Linked DNA regions of Homo sapiens: all the other regions are linked to region 1. The links come from fine-mapping of genetic effects on gene expression. A gene starts in region 1. Each other region holds a variant in brackets. All regions are shown on one strand. Distances are from middle to middle. Region 1 holds the start of CD44 (CD44 molecule (IN blood group)). Region 2 overlaps CD44 (CD44 molecule (IN blood group)). Region 3 overlaps LOC105376626 (a long non-coding RNA gene). Region 4 has its middle 67 kb from the start of CD44-DT.

Evidence for each region. PIP is the estimated chance that this variant, and not a neighbour inherited with it, causes the effect.
Region 2: its variant is the best candidate, but not a certain one, in a credible set for the expression of CD44 in whole blood (TOPMed, PIP 0.63).
Region 3: its variant is the best candidate, but not a certain one, in a credible set for the expression of CD44 in whole blood (INTERVAL, PIP 0.71).
Region 4: its variant is the best candidate, but not a certain one, in a credible set for the expression of CD44 in tibial artery (GTEx, PIP 0.58).

The regions. Positions count from the first base shown.
Region 1 is chr11:35,136,677-35,140,979 of GRCh38, reverse strand. It overlaps CD44 (CD44 molecule (IN blood group)), which reads right to left and starts at 1,809. Exons shown (of 18, transcript NM_000610.4): 1 at 1,610-1,809. The coding sequence starts at 1,676. It overlaps CD44-DT (CD44 divergent transcript), which reads left to right and starts at 2,948. Exons shown (of 3, transcript NR_120528.1): 1 at 2,948-3,282. RefSeq lists enhancers at 412-912, 2,080-2,644 and a silencer at 2,100-2,169.
Region 2 is chr11:35,227,002-35,231,304 of GRCh38, reverse strand. CD44 (CD44 molecule (IN blood group)) reads right to left here. Exons shown (of 18, transcript NM_000610.4): 18 at 1-2,176. The coding sequence ends at 1,972. Among named protein-coding and RNA genes, the nearest start is that of CD44-AS1, 14 kb to the right of the region's middle. The variant T/A (reference allele first, on the strand shown) is at 2,334.
Region 3 is chr11:35,014,424-35,018,726 of GRCh38, reverse strand. LOC105376626 (a long non-coding RNA gene) reads left to right here. Exons shown (of 4, transcript XR_001748180.2): 4 at 557-4,303. Among named protein-coding and RNA genes, the nearest start is that of MIR1343, 75 kb to the right of the region's middle. The variant G/A (reference allele first, on the strand shown) is at 1,682.
Region 4 is chr11:35,068,808-35,073,110 of GRCh38, reverse strand. No RefSeq gene overlaps it. Among named protein-coding and RNA genes, the nearest start is that of CD44-DT, 67 kb to the left of the region's middle. The variant A/G (reference allele first, on the strand shown) is at 1,707.

The sequences.
Region 1 (4,303 bases):
GCATAATCTTGGTTCACTGCAACCTTCACCTCCTAGGTTCAAGCAATTCTCCTGCCTCAGCGTCCCAAGCAGCTGGGACTACAGGTGTGCACCACCACACCCTGCTAATTTTTGTATTTTTTGTAAAGATGGGGTTTCACCATGTTGGCCAAGGCTGGTCTCAAACTCCTGACCTTGGGTAATTTGCTGCCTCAGCCTCCCAAAGTCCTAGGATTACAGGCATGGGCCACCATGACAGGCTGTGTTGTTGCTATCATTATTATTATTATTTCAGCTTCAGTAGTATAAATCCTAGATCCCCAAATCCCCACCTAGCAAAGACCTCTCACTCACACAGAAAGGGAGATGCATATGCACAGAGAACTCATCCTGCCTAGCCTCCACCTAGGGTCACTTTCTTCCTACTGCAGAAAGTAGGAAGATAGAGAAAGCAGAAAGTAATTCAAGATACTTTATACTGGGTACTCAATCTAAACTACCTGGGTGAGACTGTGTGTTTCAATTTCTCAGTACTCCCGTGGAACTGGGTTAATAAATATTTGCTGAGTAGAATTTACTGCATGCAGGCTGAGCTGTCTTAATGACCCAGCTGGCACTTCTTAAAAGAAAGATTAATTTTGGCCAGCGATAAGCAAATCGGCCATGTAATTATCTGTACATACATAGACAAAGAAAGAGAATGCTTGGAGTTGAGCCGTGCTAGAATATACCTTACACGCAGCCCCTCCCCTCCATAGCCACCACAAAGCACTGACCCTGTTTGGATGAGATATTGGAGCCCTAGCTCCAGGGTCCCTGATGTTGCCCTGGTATCAAGGCTCTTCTCTCTGCTCTGAGGCTGCCAGGCAGGGAATATAAGCCACCTTACTGTTGAGATTTCCCCACACTGATTGGCAGAAGCAGGAGGTGGTGAGGACCAAGCAGCTGGTCCAGTGGTTGCCTCTCATATTCATGCTCCCTATCCCAGGCTGGAATCTCATGGAGACCCAAGACCTCACCGCAGAGCTGGTTCAAGCTTCCACAGCGCTAAGGTGGCAGTGACACTGCGGACTGTAAGCTTTGGAACAAGGCTCAGTGGGGAGCTGGGAGAACCCAGGACCCCTTTCTGGAAAACCCATTGCCAGCTAGTCTCACACTTGGAATTGTGATCCCTTCTGTGACCACCTTGATAACAGCCACTCGCCCTGTTCCAGCCCCAGTCTCTGCCCCGCCCAGCTCTGCCCTGCCTAGACACAGCCCGGTGGGGCTTGGCGAGCCCTTGGGCACAGGAGCCTGTTAGTCCAGACAACGACTGTGCGCATCCGGGAGAACGGTTACTTTCTGCCATGTGCTGCAGCTCTAGCGACCTCGCCCAAAACTGCGCGCCGGCAGCCTGCCCAACAAACTTTCTTCTCTTTCTCTTTTTCTTTCAACCAAATGGTGCTTCCACAGACACATTCTCCAACGGTTTAGCGCAAATCCCAGCCCTGCTTTCCGGAGCCCAATGCACTTCGCAGACAGCTCACTTGACTCCAGTCCCCCAGGGCCGACTCAGCCGGAGGGGCTGCCGCCGGGTCCGCGCTGAGCACCCCGCACCCATCTTGCTGCCCAGGCTGCGGCGGGCACTCACCGATCTGCGCCAGGCTCAGCGGCACGAGGCAGAGTCCCCAGGCTGCGTGCCACCAAAACTTGTCCATGGTGTCCGGAGCGAACGGAGGGCGCGGGCGAAAGGAGCTGGAGGATCCCTGGGCGCGGGGCAGGGGCCGGCGGAGGACGGGACGAGGATGGCGGACCGAACCTGGCAGAGGCTGGGGTCCGCTGGGCAATGAGGCTGCCTCGGAAGTTGGCTGCAGTTTTTATTCGAGGTTGAAAACAGTGACCTAAGACGGAGGGAGGGAGCGAGCGAAGGACACACCCAAGCAAGGGGGGCTGTGACTAAGCAGCCCGCAGAGGTTTTAAGAAGTAGCAGCCCTCCCGGGCGGGCCCCTCTGCCCCCGCCCCGTGCTCTGCTGAGGCTGTAAATAATCGGGGCTGCCAGGGACGTGGGTCGGGGAACCTGGAGTGTCGCGGGGTGCCTGTGCCTCCGAGCCCCACTGGCCCCTGCGCCCAGAGACGCACTGGCTTTCTTCTCCCGCTGGCCCCGCGGCGTCAGGACAGAGGATGACCGAACCGTAAAACCTTGCACCATTGGGTTCAGCCTTTGGCCTCTCCTTTCCCGCTAAATTTCTCTGAATCCGGCTGGAGCAAGATCTCTGGGTTTCACAGGATGTTGGATATCCTGGGAGAGGAGCTGGAGAGAGGGCGAGGTCTTGCCCTGGGTGGCGCAGTGCCTCCGTGCCCACAGTGGGGAGTGAGGGGTGGGGAGTTGGTGAATCTTCCAAGTGGAAAGAGGGAGAGCTCATTCTTTTTCCCCTCAATAACAAGTCCACATGGCTTGAATGAATTTTAGCTTCTTGGCAGAACAGCTCAGGGAAAGCTACTGATGGCCTGTCATAGGGCTGGCATTTGGCTCAGCTAACCCATGTGTTCAAGCCAGTGTGAATGGGCACCTCTCTCCACACACATGCTCATTCATCCTCCTAAATATCCTTCCATCCGCCCATCCATCTATCCACCCATCTTTCCTTATGTCCTTCTGGGGCTCTCACATCCATCCATCCTCCTGTCCATCCACTAACCACTTAGGTCCATCTATCATCCCACTCATTCATTCATCCAACCACACACCTTTTAATTTATTCAACCACCTATTCTTCTATTCATCTTCCCATACAACTTCTCATCCATCATTCCACACTTCCTTTTTCACATCTCTTCATAAAACCACAACCATCCACCATCCTCTTCTCCACCCATCCACCCACATATCTGTTTATTGATATATCCACTCATTTCCCATCTGTCCAAGATCAACATATCCACCTATCATTTTATCCATTCTCTCATCCACCCATACGTTCATCTATTATTTTTGCCCCCATTATCCTCCTTTCTGTGTAAACATTAATTCATTTTCTCCCATCTTTCCTACCCAGCAGATCTTAAAGAGAGGAAGAGTTTGTAATATTCTTCAGGGGAAGCCTTTTGAGATTGAAATATCATACTTTGAATGATAACTCTATATCTATCTATAATATACTATGGTTTAATGTTTGGAAATCAAACGCAGTATTTATTTGTCATGTGAACTACTAAAAGTAAATCTGCATGGACTTCTTGCCTGGTGAGTTACACAGAAAATGAAAGTGATTATCAGTGGCTGTGGCAAGATGAAAGGAACCATGCCAGGACTTCTGAGGGAAGGTAAGATTTTGTTATTTATTTCAAGAAATTGAAAAGTTGAGAGAAATGCACCCAGCCATCCCCCTATGCATTCATTCATCAGACATGTAATGAGTGTTGTGGGGTATCGAGGTAAATAAGACCTGGCGCTATCTTCAGAGCCCTCACCCTCTGGTACGGAATAAAACTCACAAGCAGGCCATTACCATGCAAGGTGAAATATGCTGCAAAATGTGTGTGTTTGGGGTGCTACCATTCCTAGAGAAGGGAGTCACACTCTCTCCTGGAGAACACCAGGCAGTCTTCACAGGGGAAGTGATATTTGAGGCAGGCCTCAAAGGAAAAGGAGGAGGAATTCTTCAGATGAAACTACAGGGACAAGTAAGTCATCCACAGGCAGTACAGTGTAGTGACGAACAGCATGGATTCAGGAGCTAGAACACCTAGATCCAAACCCTATTATGGCTGCTTCTTAGTTGTGTGACCTTGCCTAAGGCAATTAGCTCAATTTGCTCAAGTATAAAATGGGCTTAATAATAGTATCTATTATTACTATTACAATTCTATTACTTCATAGAATTGGTGAGGATTAAATGACTCAAAAGCCCTGCATGTATTAAGCCGTAGATTTATGTCTACATATGCATGCAGTAAGCACTTTAAATAAGTGTTTGCTATCATTACTAAAAGCAAAATTGTGTTTGAGCATAGAAAAGTGAAAGAACATGGCTTGTCCAGAGAATAGAGAGCAATGTGAGCTGATCTGAACATAGATCAGATGAAGGGGCTGGGGGAAGATAGCAGACATGAGGTTACAGGTATGGGGACTACAAGGTGTAAGCTATGCCAGGGAGTTTGAACTTGACCCTGTAGGAAATAAGGAGGCAACGTACTTAGTTAAAATTATTATCATTGTTATGTTAAAATATGCATAACATAAAATTTACCATTTCACCCATTTAAAAGTGTTTATAGCAGTGACGTGTAGTACTTTAACAATATTGTGCAACCACTACCACTGTCTAGTCCGGTATAAATTTTT
Region 2 (4,303 bases), 90 kb before region 1:
GAGTGAGCCTGTCTGGGCCTCTGGCAGACCCAGGAAATCTCTGGGAAAACAAGAGGCACTTGAACACTAGTGGCAGTAACAACACATAGTGGCCTAATGTCCAGTTTCTTTCAAGTTGAAAAGAAAATAAAAAGAAATCCAGACCACTGAAAATGGATCTGGCCAATGATGTTCACAGAAGAGAAAGGAAGTTTTTCAAGATTGTGGGGTGAAGTGGAGGGAGAGAGGGAGGGGAGAGGGTAGACAGGGAGGAGCAGAGGCTGGGAATAGTGCAGAAAGTTGACATCTCTCCTTTAAAGATATTCTACAGATCAACTCTGTCTAAGCCCAGCCCTGATTTAGTCAGGAGCTTTTCTTCTTCTTTCTGCTTTGTGGTCTGAGAAGCATTGCCTGTTAAGCACATAAGTTTAGGTAACAAATGACTTTTAGTAGGAGCCTCAGAAAGGAGATACCATTTAACAGGAGCCGTTGCTTTATAGATGCAATGGCTTCTATGACAAGCAGCCTTTGGAAGTTCTAGGACCAATCGGACACCCTGACTGATGAATAAATGCCACAAAGGACTTGCCAAGTGGGAGAAAATATGAGGTTAGAGGATAAAGCCAGTACTCTCTTGTTTGGTCATAAACTTGCCTATCTGGTGATAAGATTCCAATGATGGGAATCCCTTTAACCTTTTGAGGGACTCCCCAGGCACTTAACTCATCCTAAATAGCAACTGCATCAAGAACAGACACTGGTGTGTTTAAGTTTACAAATACAGCCATAAAAATGTCAAACAGGATCTACATGGCATCATCCTTCCCCTTTGCCAATCTCTTTCATTTCCATTGGCTTCTTCTCTTATTGTAAGACATCAAAAGGCACTTCCATATTGTTTTTGGAAATCACTAATAGGGCCAGCCTCTATGAAATAGGGCCCCAGGGATAACAGGTCATGCAAACTTAATGTGACTTTGCAAAGCCTTTCACAGGAGAGAACAGGTGGCCATTAAACCATAAAAGAGGCTGAAGCTCCTCAGCTTCCAACTCTGATTCCAGGACAGGATGGAAAACCTTTGGACAGTGTCAAAAAAAAAAAACAAAAAACAAAAAACAAAAACAGTGCTGCCCTCCTTGGTCTTCCATGAGATTTGGCTGAGTGGGTCTGAGTGGGAACTCAGGGTCTCTGAGATGAAGACTTAGAAGAGTCTCCTTACCATTCTCAGCTCTTCCTGATACATTGTAGGGACCCAGACAGTGCTGGTTTAGAAACTGAAGAATCACAGCACAAAAGGTGAAGATCGAAGAAGTACAGATATTTATTATGAATCAGTTTAAACCCTTTTGTGCCTCTGACAAAGTAACTTTAAAAAATTATACTGATCAAAGGACTGATCCAGGGTTTAATATTTCAAAAACACAGATAAATAGTTTACTACAGATAAATAGCTTCACCCTTTGGGTGTCTCCCAGAAGCATCTGAAAAATTTCTAGAGGGGGTCTGTTGAAGATGTGTAACTAGTACACCCCAACCCCCAACCTCAGTGGAAAGCAATGCCCAGGGATTAGGCTATGGAAGGGCAAAATGGACCCATTCAAATTTCCTCCCAGGGACCAGGCCCTATTAACCCTGGGAAATGTCCTTAGCTGGTGGGGGAAAGGTTGGCGATCAGGAATACATATGTGTAGTTTTTGTTAGAAGCCATCCATAGCACACCCGAGGGATGAAAGGCCTCCAAGTGGGAACTGGAACGATCAAATTCTTGCTGATTATTAATTGGGCCCTAATTTCAGAAAGCAATGCTGTTTTTACAAATTGGACCTGACTTTAAAGAACAAAACACAAAAAACAAAAAGAGTAGAAAATTTTATGCTAAAAAAGATTCGCAATGAAACAATCAGTAGCACATTGCATCTGTTAAGTGTCCCAGCTCCCTGTAATGGTTATGTTTCCAACGGTTGTTTCTTTCCAAGATAATGGTGTAGGTGTTACACCCCAATCTTCATGTCCACATTCTGCAGGTTCCTTGTCTCATCAGCTGTCATAAACTGGTCTGGAGTTTCTGACGACTCCTTGTTCACCAAATGCACCATTTCCTGAGACTTGCTGGCCTCTCCGTTGAGTCCACTTGGCTTTCTGTCCTCCACAGCTCCATTGCCACTGTTGATCACTAGCTTTTTCTTCTGCCCACACCTAATAATTTAAAAAATGTACCATATCAGAAAGATTGCAGTGACTCAGGCATCAGATCATCATCCTTACTGAGCACCATCATTGATGATCACTATGGTTTATGATGGCTTTAGTGTGTGCCAAGCACTGTGCTAGGGGTTTTCTCTACTTTAACAAC[T/A]AACAACCAGCACTTAACAACCAGACTCATAACAACCAGCACTCCTCAAAGTGAGGTCCCTGGACCAGCAGCAAAAGCATCATCTTGGAACCTGTTAGAAATACAAATTCTCAGCCCCACCCCAAACCTGCTGAATCAGAAAACTCTAGAGTTGGAGCCCAGGATCTGTGGCTTCTCTGCACAGTCAAATTTGCAACCCCTCAGGGGCTTCTCTGCACAGTCAAGTTTGCAAACCAGCAACTAAGACTCCAGGAAGCCGGTGTTATTATTATATTCTCTATATTCCAAGTGAAGAAACCTTGGGGATCAGAAAATTCAGTAACTTCCCCCAAGTAACTCAGCAAGTAAGAAAGAGGATTCAAACCCTGGTCTGTCTGACTCTCAAGTTCTGATTCTCTTTCTATCTTACTTCACAATGGAAATGTTTGCCTCTTTTAAGCATTTTAGCAGTTTCTGCAGATTTAGATAAACCATCAACATGATGATTGTAAATCATTCTGATTTGTATATTCCAGAAAGTCCCATAACTTCCTCTCCCAGTCAACACTTTGTCGGCCTTGTCAGCATTATTACTGAATGTATCGAGAAGAATAAAACAACATTTTTCTAGAGGTATAAGGCCATAGTGATGTTTTCCTAACATTGGCTAACTCATACAACCCTGATATAGGAAGTTTAATAACATAAGACAAATTATTCTCGTTAATTTAAGGTTTCTCAAACATTACTTAAGACCCAAACGCAAAAGAAAGTTGCTATGGAAGAGTACGACCTTGATCTTTTCCCTGGTTACTGTCCATTGCTTCACCCCACCCAGCCTAATGCAATGCTTCCTCTTTCCTGTAACATATCACTACTACACATATACGAGTCAGACTATGCTTAGAGGAAGGAAAGTTGCATAGCTTCACAACTACAAGCAAGATGGGGATTCAGGGAAGCAGATTACCTCCTGAATACCAGACATTTTACATGTAATTTTCTGTAATTCTTACAACACTCTTTCAAAGCAGCTATTGTTCCCATAATACAGCAATGGAAACTGAGGCCAAAAGAGGTTTAATAACTTGCTCGAGGTCACACAGAAAGTAAGAATGACAGAGCCAATATTCAAATCCAGGCCTTTATGACCAAAGCCTGGGCTCTGCCTGGCTCTGTCAATGCTGCCAGCCCTCTGGAGATTTGGAAACAGTATGAAGTCAGAATTGTTCACTTTGCCTCTGGATATTTGGAGTAATAGTGACAAAGCCTCTATTATTCATGATCATGGACCATTCCCTGTAGGACTGCCAAGGCCATAAACTTTAAGCTCTTGTTTGGGGAAATAAAAATTATACCTCCTCAACAGGAGGTAGATCCTGTCTCCTCTAGCATAAGGCTTGATGAGGGGTTGGGGGAAGGATGCTTGAACTGTGAAACAGATTCATGGGGACCAGGAATACAGATGGAGTCCAGCAGGATGCATGGTCAAGAAAAGGGCCTTGGAGGCCAGGTGCAGTGGTTCACTCCTGTAATCCCAGCACTTTGGGAGGCCAAGGCGGGTGGATCACTTGAGCCCAGGAGATTGTGACCAGCCTGGGCAACATGGTAAAACCCAGTCTGTATTCAAAATACAAAGATAAGCCGGCTGTGGTGGCATGTGCCTGTAGTCTTAGTTACTTTGGGGGCTGAGGTGGGAGAATTACTTGAGCCCAGGAAGTCGAGGCTGCAGTGAGCTGTGTTTGTGCCACTGCATTCCAGCCTGGGTGACAGAGTGAGACCCTGTTTCAAAAAAGAAAAAGAGACCAGGCACAATGGCTCATGCCTGTAATCCCAACACTTGGGAGGCTGAGGCAGAAGGATCACTTGAGGTCAGGAGTTCGAGACCAGCTGGCCAACATGGTGAAACCCCATCTCTACCAAAAATACAAAAATTAGCCGGTCATGGGGGCATGGTGGTGCGTGGCTGAATCCCAACTACTCAGGAGACT
Region 3 (4,303 bases), 120 kb after region 1:
GTAAAATTTTTTAAAGAAAAAAATAACTAAGAAAGTGATTACAAAACAAGAATAATTTCTGATTATATTATTTTAATGGTCATATAGCCAATATATAGGCGTTTAAATTTTATTACATTAATGTACAAGGATATATAATTTGGCTTATTAGAAATTATTTTTGAAAATATTTTAATACGATAGTTTTTGTCATTACACTAATATAACAAAATCTTTCTCATTTGACAAATATTTCAAAAATATATAACAAATTATTTTAGCATTCCTTCTCCTCTCAAAAGCATGCTGTCACTCTGTTTTTGAAGACAGTTAAAAGAATTCCATTTCTGAACACTGTTAAGAAAAGTGGGGGAGTCCCAGCAGAGTTTTGGGCAAAGGCAATGGAATAAACATGGCATTTCTGAAAAGAGACACTTGCAAAGGCCCAACACTCGCAAAGCATACCAGGCATAATGTAAATAGGAAAAAGAAACTATTCCGTTGATTCAGTTCATTTGTAAAAGGAGTTTTCCCAAGGTAGATCACAAACAAACCAGTCCATGTGAATCACTTGCAGAGCTTTGAACCCTGAACCCAGCATTCTGAGAGTGGGAACCAGAAATGTGCATTTGAAAAGACTCCCCAGGCAATTCTGATGAGGAGCCAGTGAGCCTGCTGAACCAGGTGACTACTGACATCTCTTCTTTGAGTGACTTTCGACCATCCCACAAATGTCTGCTCGACGGTGTCCTGGAAGAGCTGGGTCATGGCTCTCATTACACACTACTCAGCATCATACACCAGGTTGTATCACACATCTCATTCACACTACTGAGCATCATACACCAGGCTGTATCACACTTTGTCCGGACTTCATGAGTCTTCCAGTACAGTGATGGGACGTAGGTTTTCTAGACTTGCCTATGGGCTTCTCCTCTTTCCTAATGAAGCTTCCACTCATCCAAACGTCCTTTGAGGAGGAAATTTATCCAACTCACTCCACTGCAAAAGCTGGAGAACTGACAAGATTCTTCCTGACCACTTCAGTGGCTATGATTATAGGCAGTATTGTGGTTTTCATTTGCAAAATGAGGAATAAAGCTGCAGACATTTCCAGTACTAGAAATGGTCTGTTTGTAGCATGAAGGTGCATATTCATTTCTTTTTCTTTTTTCCTGACCCTTAATCATTTATTACATTTTTCTCCTGTTAAACAAGCTATATAGGCTGAATACAAAGAAGTTTGAAAACACAGAAAGGTAAAAAAATTAAATTAAATTAAGATCATCTGAAATGTTAACTTCAAGAGAAAGTTAACAACTGTGAGCATTCTGGTTTGTATATTCTTGCAGTCTTATTTAATTAATTGCATTTATGTACTTTAAAAAAAGTAGAATTATATTGTATATATGGCTTTGATTTCTTAAAAATTAACATTGTGAACATGTGCAAGGAGTGTTTCTTAAATTGCTCTTTCCATTGTCACTTTTACTGGAGATTAAAGTCTCAAAGTACATTTTTTGACTTAGCAGAGGGAGAGCTGAGATGTCTCATTAAAGCTTGGCCGAGCGCCTTCTGTTACTGCTTATTTACATAAGTAGCTTTCCTAAAATCAACGGCTCCCATGAACAAGACATATATATTAATGCCTCACAGTCCAATATATGATGAGATAAATGACCACTGCTTCCTTATATAATGC[G/A]CACACACTTGCCTGAGACAAGTCAGCTGTTCTGAAACACAAGATTAGGAAATTCAATTTCATGTATACATTTCCATGAATCAAAAGTCAAAATCAAAGGACAACCTTCTGTGTTACAGTGAACTCTGGAAGTAAGTGTAAATAAGATAATAAGATATGCCCTACTTTGTTGTCATCTTTTTTTTTTTTTTTGCTTTTTGTTTTTTGTTTGTTTTGAGATGGAGTCTCACTCCGTCACCCAGGCTGGAGTGAAGTGGTGCAATCTCGGCCCACTGCAACCTCCACCTCCTGGGTTCAAGCAATTCTCATGCCTCAGCCTCCCAAGTAGCTGTGATTACAGGCGTGTGCCACCACGCCTAGCTAATTTTTTGTATTTTTACTAGAGACAGGGTTTCACCATGTTGGCCAGGCTGGTCTTGAACTCTTAACCTCAGGTGATCTGCCTGCTTCAGCCTCCCAAAGTGCTGAGATTACAGGTGTGAGCCACTACACCTGGCCAGCTATGCCCCACTTTGAACAAACATTGCTAGAATCTGGAAGAATCTTCTGTTAGCCAAGGATTGCTTTTGAGGTTCACTCCAAAAACTGAGCTACCACCGGGGACAAATGGTCTCATAATTTTGAGTGTGTAAAGTGCAGCGATTCCAGCTCATGAGCACTAATATAATTTTGGAAACAATATACCCACAACAGGCATCGTCTAGAAAACTAACAGGATCTCTTTTCCACTAGAGTGTATTGTTGTTGACTAAGTGTTTTCAGTTATTAAGCTGGAAGAGACATGCTGGGGAGAATGCTTTGGAGGAACAAGTAAGCACAGAACACAGAGAATCAGGTAACTTATTATTTCTCACCTTTCTCTTTCCTTTGTAGATAATTAGCAAACATTCCTTTCTCCACCTTATCTCTTTGTTGAGGTCATATCAGCAATTATCTGCCCTCTGGTTTATGCAAAACTACCTGAATAAGTCATAATTCAGAAGAGCTTATCAACTTTCTTCCATGTCCCGTTGCCCAAAAATAATCAGCAATGAAATATCTCAAACATACAGAAAAATAGAAGTAAACAAAACCACCTAGATTTATGAGCAGTTCACTCTCTATCTACATGCTTAATATATTTTTAATAAAGTCTTCAGTCATCACTGCCACATTTACAAGAATACTTGGCCTTTTGGCTTGTCTTCTGAACATATTTTTGCATGTAAGCCTTTTACATATTTCTCTGAAGTGGTTCGAAATCCATCAGCTCGATGGTCTTTATTGTTTCAATATGGCCCAATCCACAGGGCAGAGCATATGACTGGTGTGGTGGTTGCTGCGTGGCTTTGAAGTCACACGGATTTGAGTTCCAGTCCCTGCCTACTAGCTGAGCAAATGTGGTCAAGGGTCTGTGACTGAAATTCTCATTGATAAAGCAGGGATAATAATACCTACCTTGTTGTCGAGATGTCATGAGGTGATGTAAGCAAAGCATCAGAACAGTACCTAGCACATAGTAAGTGGTTATCATCAGCTTGTGTGTCTGCTGTATATGCTGAACTGCTTGAGTCCATCTCCAATTGAAGCTGTATTTACCAGGATCCACTCAACCACTACCTTGATCATTAACACCTCCTTATTTGTGGACTCATGAATACAAGGCACTTGCATCTGCGGGGCTTCAAACTTAGCCCAGTGAAATGGCAGTCTTTTTTAGTTTTCTAAACACCTGGAGGTGACTTTTTCCCTGCCTCTGACTTTAAAAACATAATGAAATTTTACAGAGTTTTATAGCACTGAACTTTATGTAAAATCAAAAGAGCCCGTGAAATAAGAGAGCAATTGGTTGTAAGCAAGCCCCTTCATGAACATGGGCATTTTTTTTTTAACGTCTTTGTATCTGTGAGCATCTCCTTCTCTTCCTATCCTTAAGTGTATTATTTGTCATGAAAGCAAAGTGCTTTTAAAAAATTGTGTTTGATTCCATGGTTCCCAACAATGGCTGGACTTCAAACTCACCTGTGGTGCTTAAGATTATATATCTGTATACTTTTGTTTAAAATGAATATTATAAAAATTTATGTTTAAAAATATGTGTGTATATACATACATAGTTACATACACCCAAGGCACATATGTGCATGTGTATACATAACATATACACATACATACATACACGCACACCACCACCAAAGCCCCACTAAAAAAATACTGGAATCTCTGGGAGTAATGGGGGCAAATAGGAGGAGTTAATGTTCAGGTAAGGCTATTATGGACCCATTGTTGAGAATCACAGTGGGTTAATTACTTGAAACAGTACCTATCTAAAGGACAGTTAAAGATTTTGGTATTAACCAGAAAGTCTTTTTTTTTTTTTTCTTAAATAATTTTGCAGGCAAGATGCTGCTGTTACAAGTTTTCTGTTCTGAATTATGTCTTCCATAGGAATGAAGCATCCACACAGTCCATCCAAGCATACTGTGAATCAAAACACATGTCATAGCTGGAACGAAAGCATTAGGACCATCTAACTGGATTCCACTGGAATGAGTCTCTGTGAAACCATGCCGAAGTCTTTGTAAACAACCACCCTAAAGAAAGCTACATGAAGAATAGCCAATAACAAAAGCACTGGATTTA
Region 4 (4,303 bases), 68 kb after region 1:
ATAGTCTTGAATTGGAGTAGAATGATCGCTGCCACCTTATTTTCTTTTTAAAAATTACTTTAATTAGTTATGTTGCCTTTTCATATAAATTGTAAAATAATCTTGTCTGTATTTATAATATATCTTGCAGGGTCTTTGATAGGAATTGGGTTAAACCTGTATGTCAATTTGAGGATAACAGACATCTTTACCATGTTAAGTTTTCTGATGCATGAACACAATATATGTCTGTCCATTTATTTAAGTCTTCTTTAATTTCTTTCACCAGGCTTTTGTAGTTCTCAGCATATACTTCTTGCAAACATTTTGTTGGATTTATACCTAAGTACTTTACTTCTTTTTAGCAATTGTAAATGATATTGTATAGTTACATTTTATATCCACATGCCCATTGCTAGTTTGTAGAGATAAAATTGTCTTTTCTTTTTCTTTTCTTACCTTCTTTTTTTTTTTTGAGACAAGGTCTCGATCTCACCCAGGCTGGAGTCGCAGTGGCACAATTTCAGCTCACTGAAACCTCTGCAACCTCTACCTCCTAGGCTCAAGTGATCCTCCCACTCAGTCTCCAGAGTAGCTGGGACCACAGACGCTTGCAGCCACACCTGGCTATTTTTGTAGAGATGGGATTTCACTATATTGCCCAGGCTGGTCTCAAACTCCTGAGCTCAAAGCCTTCTGCCCACCTTGGCCTCCCAGAGTGCTGGGATTACATGTGTGAGCCACCATGCCCAGCCAAAATGGCCTTTCTATGTTTATCCTGTATCCTGTAACCTTGTTGAACTCATCTTTCAGTTCTAGGAAGTTTTTGTAGATTCCCTCGCATTTTCTACATATACATTCATGTCATAAGGACGATTTTACTTCTTCCTTTCCAATACATAGGCCTTCTATTTCTGTTTTTTGGGGTTTTTTTGTTTGTTTGTTTTTGCCTTAATGCACTCACTAGAACTTACAGTACAATGTTGACTAAAGATGATGTTGAATAAGGGTGGACATCCTTGCCTCTTTCCCAATCTTAGGGGTAAAGCATTCAGTCTTTCACTATTAAGTACAATGGAAGCTGCAGGTATTTTGTAGCTACTCTTTATCAAGTTGAAGAAGTTTCCCTCTCTTTGTATTTTTCTGACAGCATCATGAATGGGTATTAAATTTTATCAAATACTTTTTCTGCATGATTTTAATATGATCACGTGATTTTTCCTTTTTAACCTGTTAATATGATAGACTACATAGATTTTCAAATACTGAAACAGCTTTGCATCTGTGGAATAAATCCCATGTGGTCTAATCTATAATTCTTTTTACATACTGTGAATTCTATTTGCCAATATTTTGGTAAGGGTTTTTGTATTTATATATATGAGAGATATTGGTCTGCAGCTTCTTTGTTTGAGCTGTCTTTCTCTTGTTTTGGATCAGGGTAACACTAGCTTCAGAAAATGAATTAGAATGTGTCCTCCCACCTCACTTTTTCTATTTTATGGAAGCTATTGTTATTCTTTTTCAAATGTTTGTTAGGGTTCTTCAGTGAAATCATCATCAATGTGTGAAAATTTCTTTGAGAGGAACAGTTTTTATTTTAATTACTAATTCAATTTCCTTAATATTTATAGTGCTATTAAATTATCCATTTCATATTGGATAGTTGTGGTAGTTTGTGTTTTTTGAGAATTTGGTCCATTTCATTGAAGTTGTTCAATTTATAT[A/G]TGTAGATTTGTTCATAGTATTTCCTTATTGTCTTATTTATTTATTTATTTTGAGATGGAGTCTTGCACTGTTGCCCAGGCAGGAATGCAGTGGCGTGATCTTAGCTCACTGCAAGCTCTGCCTCCCGGGTTCACGCCATTCTCCTGCCTCAGCCTCCCGAGTAGCTGGGACTACAGGCGCCTGCCACCACACCCAGCTCATTTTTTGTATTTTTAGTAGAGATGGGGTTTCATCATGTTAGCCAGGATGATCTTGATCTCCTGACCTTGTGATCTGCCTGCCTCGGCCTCCCAAAGCGCTGGGATTACAGGCGTGAGCCACCGTACCTGGCCCCTTATTGTCTTTTTAAGTCTGCAGGTTTTATAAAGATTTCTCTTGTTTCATCCCTGATACCAGTCATTTGTGTCTTCTCTATTTTTTTCTTTATCAGTTCTACTAGAAGTTTGTCTATTTTATTGATCTTTTCAAAGAACAAACTGTTTCAGTGATTTTCTCTATTGTTTTCTGTTTTCCTCTTCATTAATTTATGCTCTTTATTATTTCCTTCTTTCTGCTTGCATTGTATTTATTTTTGTTCTTTTTTATTGAGATGTGAGTTTAGATGACTGATTTGAGGACATTTCTCTTTTCTAATGTATGCTTTTAGTGCTATAAATTTCCCTCTCAGTACTGCTTTGGCTGTGTCCCACAAATTTTGATACTTTTTATTTTCATTTTCATTCAGGTAGGTGAACAGTTTTTTAAAAATTCTCTTGAGCCGTCCTTTTTGATCCTCTTTCTAAATAACCAAGTTTATTTAAAAGCTTGTTATTTAGTTTTCAAGTGTTTGGAGAATTTTCTGTAACTTTCTATTGTTTTTAATTTCATTCCATTTGGGCTAGAGAACACACTCAGTATGATTTCAACTCTTTTTAATTTGCTAAATTTTGGAGGTTTTTTTGTTTGTTTGCTTTGTTTTTATACACTAGGATATGGCTTATCTGGCGATATATTCTGTAAACACTTGAAAAGAATTTGTATTCTGCTGATGTTTGGTAGAGGGCACTATAAATGTCAGTTCCATCCTAATGGTTGATGATGTTGAGTTCTGTTGAGTTCTTCTATATCCTTGCCAATTTTTTGTCTAAGTAGTCTATCAATTGTTAAGAAAGGAATATTGCAGTATTCAACTATAATTGTGAATTTGTTTCTTTTTTTTAAATTCTATCAGGTTGGGTAATTTTTATTATTCCCTCTTCTAGTTCACTGATTATTTCCTCTTTCCTCTTTATTCTGCTGTTTAGCTCATCCACTGAGTTTTTACATCAATTATTGTATTTTTCAGTTCTAGAATTTCCATTTATTAACTTATTCCTTCTATTTCTTTGCTGAGACTTTCTATTACTTTCCTGAGACATTCTAGTTTTACATTTTTTCCAAGTATGTTACTAATTGCCCCTTGAAGCATTTTTATGAGGGCTACTGTAAAATAATTGTAGATAATTCTAACATGTCTATCATCTTGATAAGGGAATCTATTGTCTGTTTTTGTCTTGTTCCATTTGAGATCCTGGTATGACGAGTGATTTTTAAATTAAAACCTGAACATTTGTGGTGTTATAAGACTCCGGATTTTATTTAAACCTCTGTTTTCACTGGCTTCCTCTGACATTGCTCTGGCAAGGGAAAGAGGATCACCCCTCATTACTGCCATGTGGGGACAGACGTTCATGTTCCACATTTAACCTCTATGGACACTCAAGGAAGCTCCTCATTACTGCTGGATGGGGGTCAGTGTTTTAGCTCCCCAGTAGGGCTCCACTCATACCTCCCTGGCTGGAAGGAGTATGAATGCCTTATTACCGCATCTCCCATGGCCTCCACTGATGCCATGGGGAGAGTCACACTACTGCTGTGACAAAGGTCCTGACCCTGCACTAGGCATCCTCTGACATGACACTATTTGGGGAAAGAGGGAGGGAGAGGCACCTCTTCACTGCTGGGTGGAGGTAAAACTCCAGGCTCCCACATAGTCTCCACTGATACTGTGGTGTGGATACTTCTTCTCGCCAGGCAGGAATAAAGTCCTGATTTTCTATTCAGCATTTTCTGACACCACCCTGGAGGAATGGTGGAGGTAAGAAATAGTGTTGCGGCCCTTATTACGGCCTAATTAGGGTAGAAATCTAGAGTCCCCATTAGGCCTTTCCTGGTATGACTGGAGATGGGGCTACAGTGTTTTTCTTGTTGTTGTTGTTTTGTTTTTCCCTGTTGTGTCTGACTGGAGTAGAGTGGTTCTGGTCTAAAGGTCCTCTGTCTTGCTGGGCTACTCATTTCCTGTTCCTTGGCTAAAGAGAACAGTCTTTTGTTGTGGCTTTTTTTGTCTGTGCCCATTGGCATTTCTAGGTTATCATCTTCCTTATTCCCAAGTCTGGAATAGCTGCGGCAAAAAGAAAGCCCAGGAACCCAGAGAACTCACCATTGTTTTGTTCCATGGTCCCTAAGTCCCCAGCCAATCTACATTCTTCTCTTCCCTTTAAAGCCTTTCTACCTTTGTTTTATATATAATGTCCAAAGTTTTCCATTGTACTTAGAGGGAAAAAATAGGAAAACATGT